2 linked regions of the Homo sapiens genome follow. The protein of the gene in region 2 purifies or fractionates together with the protein of the main gene of each other region. This does not show direct contact. Each region holds a gene or a part of one and is shown on either strand. Other genes may lie near its edges. The genes, in order: CCDC51 and NSG2.

Region 1 (3,244 bases), on a different chromosome or scaffold from region 2:
ATCCCATGCCATTCTGGGGAGCCATTACTCGCCAAGGATAGATTGACTGAGGGACCAGGTGCTGAGAACCTGGGGTGGGGGGCATTTGGGCCATGCTCACTGCCCAAGACTGAACACAGGCTCCAAGAAGAAAGTATGCCTTATGGGAAACACTCCTGACTCCACAGGCTCTGAGAGCTCTGCACAGGCACCAGTGAACGAGTCCCCACCTGCGGCCCCCCTGCATATAGCTACCCTGCGCTCTCAAAGGGGAGTGGGTTCTCTGGAATGTGCCTGACTTCCAATACTCCAACACCAGGACTGAATACCAGCCCAAAGCTCCTGTTTACTCAGGGCACACAAGGCCACCCATGGCCATTTAGTCAAGGTCAAGGGTCACTGTTCCCCTCTGAAAAGAGATCATACATATGCCCCACTGCACCTCCCACCTGTGGGAGACCCCCCCCTCCCTATCACTGCCTCTCCATGCACACTCCCGGTGTCCTGAGCTCTGCCTATGCCTGTGGAAGATATCCCCGGGCTGTGTGGGGGTGTGCACCCAGCCCCCGTGGCACACCACTGCTGCCCAAAGCAATCTCTGTACCAGGGATCCAGACTGGCCACCAATCCCTATACTTATGTCCCCAGCAACATTTATCAACCATTCTCCCAATCTCCCTTCCCTGCTCTCCTCTGATCACTCCTCCAGTACTAGAACCAGGAAGTTCTCCCCCACATGGTAGAGAAAGTGATCCAGGAGATGGGAAGCAACCATGGTCACGAAATGAGTAGGCAGCAGGCTAGGTTCCACTCACTGGAACTCCCAGGCCATCTGACACCGGACAGTCAGGTAACTGGAGGAAATCCAAAATGAAAATCTAGGCCTCAGGAGTGCATCCATAACAGTTCAGAAAAGAGGACAGAGAGGAGATGAGAGAGGAACTAAAGGGGGTGACTACCCCAACTCCAGGCCCAACCTTCAAGTCTTGGATCTTGATTCTTAATGAAAAAAACTCAGTCTGATTGTTTTAAATAATAAAACTCAGGATATTTTAATTGGACATTAGCACAAAGTTTTGATAATTAATGTAAATGAACCTTGTCTACAAAGCGAAGCATGCCTGCTGGTGAGCCACACAGATACTGCTCCTTCAGATTGAGGTTGTACATGCCCCCAAAGGCTCGCTTCATTGCTACGATTCTCTACTTAAATCCACATTCACAGCTATTGCCTCAGACCCTCTGGAGGAGGGGCCAGGGGTTAGCTGGCTTTGAATAGCATGTAGAGCACAGGCAGTGTGGCCACAAATGTCACACAGGTGACCAGGGTGCTATAGATGGTGTTCCTGTTGACTTGGGCTTCTAGTCTCTGCTCCGTGTCTGACAGTGCCAAGATCATGCTCCCCTGCTCCAGCAAGAAGCTGGGCATAGCCCCGTCTGCTGGTTCCACCAGGCCTGGGTGTGCTGCAGACTTTACAAGCTGAACCACCCCAGCCATTTGGCTACAAGTCTTTTCTAGGCCATCAAGCTGCTCTCGTAAGCCTTCTAGACATGAATGGACTTGCCTGGAATGACTAAGCTGCTCTTTCAAGGCAGCTGAAAGGACATCTACATCTCTGTCTCTGGTCGGGGGACTACCTGCCTGTGACCCAGAGTCCTGCCCTGGCCCAGCAGCATGTACCAGGCCCCTCAGGTCCACCATGAGATTGTGGAGGTCCCTCTGCTGGCGGGAGTAGCTAGACGCCTGTTCTCGAATGGCCTCTTGGAGACTCACAGGCCCCTTCTGCGCCTCCAGGAGTAAAGCCTTCAGCTCCTGTAGTCGCACACGGTTCACATAGGTGGAGCCAGCCACACCAATCAGGGCCCCCAGGACTGAGCCAATGAGGGACCAGTTCTTGGTCCTCTCAGCCCTTGTGCGCTCCTTCTCATGACTTTCCCGCACAGCTGCAGAGAAGAGGGAGAACTTCTCTCGCTCAGAGTCTTCTGCACGCAGATAGGCTGTGCGAAGCCTCTTCTCCTCCTGCAGAAGCAAAGCCATGTTATTGGATTACATGGGCACAAGGTGGCCCTGCAGCTATAGCCACCAGCAGATGGCTCACTACCTTGTGCCTGGCAGAGTACATGTTCCATAGACCCATGCTGAATGAATGAAGGTAGCACCAACCTGGCTGGGTCAGAAGGGCAAAGGAATTGGGAGTGATCAAAGTGAGTTGCATGATCGTCCCACCTGAGCAGTTCTGGGTTTGACCAGAGGTGCACTTATGTCTACACAAAGGGAAGTGTCCAGCACTCCCTAGGCCAGCCCCTCCATAGTTCTCCTTCCTCAGCATTCTGAGTCCCAGGCTACGCTGCCCTGAAGAGTTGGCCCCAGTACTCCAGAAGAAAGTATATGGATAGACTCTGGAAGCTTGGGGTTCTGTCCATCCATAGGAGCTTCTGGCTCACCTCTGTACCAGGCCTCTGACTACAGACCAGTCAGGGTTCCCACCCGGCCCCTCCATGATCTGCCAGGCTAGGGTCACTGTCCAGGTGCGAAAGGGCTGCCTCCTGAGGTGCCTACCTGCAGCATCCTGTGCTCGAGAGTAGCCAGTTCCAAGTACTGACTGTCCTCCCTGGAGACACGGTCCAAGCGGTCCCTCACCTCCTTCAGCTTGGCCTGGTGAACTTCCAAGTCCTCCCGAGCCTCTCGGACAAGCCCTCGAGCCACCATGAACACTTTCTCAGCCTGCAAAGAGAAAACCGGAGGCCATCTGCACCTTCTCTCCACACCCACACAGGCTCAGCTGCATTCCCAGCAAGGCATTCCCAGAAGAGGTCACTGGGGTGTGAGCTGCAAAGGGTGGAAACGGAATTCCTTAGACACTAATCCTGGCTCACCCAGTGGTGCTCAAAGTGCAGCCTTGGGCCACACCCATCAGAATCACGAGATTTAGCCATTCAAGCAGAAATAACATGCCCCTGAAAAAACTTGAAAACAGCTAACAATGCACACAATTTGTGTCCATCAAACCTGTGTTGGTAGGCTGTTTCCCGTGTGTTGCCTTATTTATGCCTTATAACAATGCCATGAAAGGCACTGCTGTGGCCTCCAGTTTATAAACCCAGAAACACCAGCTCAGCCAAGCTCACAATCTCCAAGGAAAGAGATGGCACTGTTTGTCTCAAAGTCCCAGCTGAACCCCAGGTTCTTCCCACCACGCTACACTACTACATGCCTAAGCAGGAGTGGGAACAGAGATGACAGAATGCATTTCTGCCACCACAA
Region 2 (3,500 bases):
GGAAGGCCACTGCAAGGGTAAGCAAACAGCCATTGAGCCAGGAAGACCCGCACCAAGCCGAGCTTTCCCAAAATGGAACAGTCCATGTCAAGAGGTAGTGAGCTGCTTCCCTCATTGCTGATGTGCCGTCCAAGCTGGACCACCTCCTGACCCTGGAGAGCACCATCTTGGGGGAGGAACTCTACTGCTTACTGGAGACTGAGTCCCTCAAGAAAACTTGGAAACTCCTTGCCAAACACATATTCCATTTTAAACAGTCGGTAGAGAGGTCGTCATACCCAGAATTTGGACACCAGTGAAGAGAAGACATTGATCAACCCTCTAACTGAATTTGATAGTGACCTGGGACTACTCAACCACCTCTTACCTTATAGACGAATCCCTCTGGGCAGCTGTGATCATAGGTGAAGGCTTTGTAAACCACCAGGAACACGATGCACGCAAGGAAAGCTAGGGCCAGGCTGACAAGGATGGTGACCTGGAGGAATACAAAATTAAGTCATCCAGCCTCAGTCTGCCCACCTTCAGTCCCCGTATGCAGCTTTCAGAGCCTAGAACTGGCAGGCAGCATGGTGTGCTAGAAAGGGGGACAGGCCCAAGGAACTGGCTCTGTCTTGGCTTTGTTACTAACTTGCAGTCTTTGGGCCTCTTTCCCCCTTCTGCAGGATAATCTCTGAAGCTCCATTTTTTTTGTTTTGGTTTTTTTTGTTGTTGTTTATTTGTTTGTTTTTGTGAGATGGAGTCTCACTCTGTCACCCAGGCTGGAGAGGTGGAGTGCAATGGCACCATCTCAGCTCACTGCAACCTTCACCTCCCAGGTTCAAGTGCTTCTCCCTGCCTCAGCCTTCCGAGTAGCTGGGATTACAGGTACCCACCACCACACCTGGCTAATTTTTGTATTTTTTAGTAGAGACAGGGTTTAGTAGAGACAGGGTTTCACCATGTTGGCCAGGCTGGTCTTGAACTCCTGACCTCAGGTGATCCACCTGCTTCGGCCTCTCAAAGTACTAGGATTACAGGCATGAGCCACTGCACCCGACCACTCCTTTCTGATTTAACATGTGATTTCCCCCTCATTTTCCTTTTCCTGATAACTATGTGGGATGTGGGGGAGTTGATCATTAAGCTGTCACTTCCAGTGCTTCCTGCTTTACATCCCCACCGCGCCCCAGCACTGGTGCATTGCAACCTCGGACATCAACTGCTTCTTTCGCCTCTACTTGGACATCTAATACACACTTTCAACACATTCCCAAACAGGATTCCTGCTCTCCTCCCAACTCAAACCTGCTCCACCTGCATTCTTCTTCATCTCAGAATATGTCAATTTCACATTTGCAGTCACTCAGGCCAAATATCCTGAAGTCATCCATGACTCCCTTTTTCTCAAACACCACATCCAATCTACCAGAAGAAACGATCATTTCTGCCTTCAAATACACCCATAATCTGACCACTTTTTACCACCTCAATCATGTCCAACCGGGTGGAAGCCATCATCATCTCTCACCTACAGCATCTAACAGCCTTCTAACTAGTGACGACTTCCTTGTCCTCTAGGGTGTATTCAGCACACAGCAACCAGAGAGAGCTTTGTAAAATCTAAAACAAAGCAGGGGCCAGGTGCAGTGGCTCACACCTGTAATCTCAGCACTTTGGGAGGCCGAGGTAGGAAGATCACTTGAGGTCAGGAGTTCGTGACCAGCCTGCCCAATATGGTGAAAGCCCATCTCTACTAAAAATACAAAAAAAAAAAAAAAAAAAGCCAGGGTGGTGGCAGGCACCTGTGATCCCAGCTACTGGGGAGGCTGAGGCAGGAGAATTGCTTGAACCTGGGAGGAGGAGGCTGCAGTGAGCCGAGCTTGTGCCACAGCACTCCAGGCTGGGTGACAGAGTGAGACTCCATCTAAATAAATAAATAAATAAATAAATAAATAAATAAATAAATAAAAAAAACAAAGCATGGCCCTTTTCTGCTCGAAAGCCTGCAGTGGTCTCCAGCTTAAATATAACCCAGTTCCTATCCACTATCTGAAAGCAACCTTTAAAAAAAATAATACAACACCAAACAAAGTGGGGGCACCATCAGGATTCATCTGAAACCAGTAATTGGTTAACTTCAGAGGCACCTCTAGGCTTGCACTGACCCCATCCCACCATCTATGTACAAGGGGGCAGGGAAGTCCCCATGATACCGGGGCATCTAATATTACAAGCAGAATTTGTGTGTGTGTTATTTTTTAAAGCTGGTGTCCCTTTCAGTCAGTTGGCCTAGAAATATGGCAGGATTCTTCTCATGGAGGAAAGGTTCCTTTTGATTCAGAAAAAGAGTAAAATTAACTTTGGGAGTGCCCATGCCATCTCTTTCCCACCCCAGGGCATGTTTATAAGGAAAGGAGGAGACAGGAGTTTACATTGCTCCAAAAATATGGAGTTGTCTGTTGGCAGTTTTAAATACTGGACGGGAGGAATTTGAAAAGGAAAAGAGGAAGATGGATGTCGGGAGGATTCTGTCCAAATCTCATGGGCAGACACCGTCCATGAGCAATTCCTAATGAGTGTGTATATGAAGTTTTAGGACAGTACTGTGTAACATTCAATTTTAAGCTACTGTTGACACCATGTGCTGTCCATTCTCTCCATTACCCCAAGCCAGAAGTTGAAGCCTGTTGCATGCTTATCAGCCTCCTGCCCTGGATTGGAGTGATAACAGTATGGGATGAGATGGTGCAGAGATCAGTCCGGTATCACACAGGCAAGAGGTGGAGCTGAGGTGGAGAAATCAAGAGAAGTTGGACTTAAAGCAAGAGATACCATGAAGACACATATGCACCCTAGGAAACTCCTATTTGAATAGTACAGGAAAGGAGGCCACCCAAGACCACGACTCACAAATGCTGAGGACCTAGGAACACATGATCAACATGTGTTTGGAGTAGAGATATAAAAAAATTTTAAATGCTCAGATTTCCCAATAGCCAAAAGGTAGAAACAGCCCAAATTTCCATCTGCTGATGAATGAATAAACAAATTGTGGTCTATCCATGCAGCGGAATGTTATTCAGCCATGAAAGGGAATGAAGGACCAGCTGCAGATGCAGACGGCCCTTCAAACGTGATGCTGAGCCAAAGAACCCAGACGCCAATGGCCACATGTCATGTGATTCCATCTGATGAGACTCCCAGAATGAGGAAATGCACAGAGGCAGGTGCAGACTGGAGCCCGCTAGGACTAGGGGGTCTGGGGGAATGGGGAATGACTGATAAGGGGTATAGGGTTTCCTTTTGGTGTGATGAAAACATTTTGAAACTAGACAGAGGTGATGGTTGCACAACATTATGGATGCACTAAATGCCACTGCACTGCTCACTTTAAAGTCATTATGTTTATGTTACACGAGTTTTCTCTTAGTTTTTAAAAATAAATGCCCAGAGTTCAGGCAGCATCCTGGCACCTGCAGCTCTGCCCTAGGGACAGGGAGCCAATTTCCTAAGTGGTG

Evidence for each region.
Region 1: the proteins of NSG2 (region 2) and CCDC51 purify together in Homo sapiens (affinity purification with mass spectrometry; one large-scale study listed by BioGRID and IntAct). This does not show direct contact.

Annotation. Positions count from the first base shown.
Region 1 is NC_000003.12:48,431,168-48,434,411, forward strand, and holds the end of CCDC51 (mitochondrial potassium channel), read right to left. Parts: intron 2,810-3,244; exon of another isoform or gene 2,705-2,809; coding exon 2,540-2,704; intron 2,000-2,539; coding exon 1,241-1,999; 3' UTR 1,006-1,240; downstream 1-1,005.
Region 2 is NC_000005.10:174,101,206-174,104,705, reverse strand, and holds part of NSG2 (neuronal vesicle trafficking-associated protein 2), read right to left. Parts: intron 479-3,500; coding exon 368-478; intron 1-367.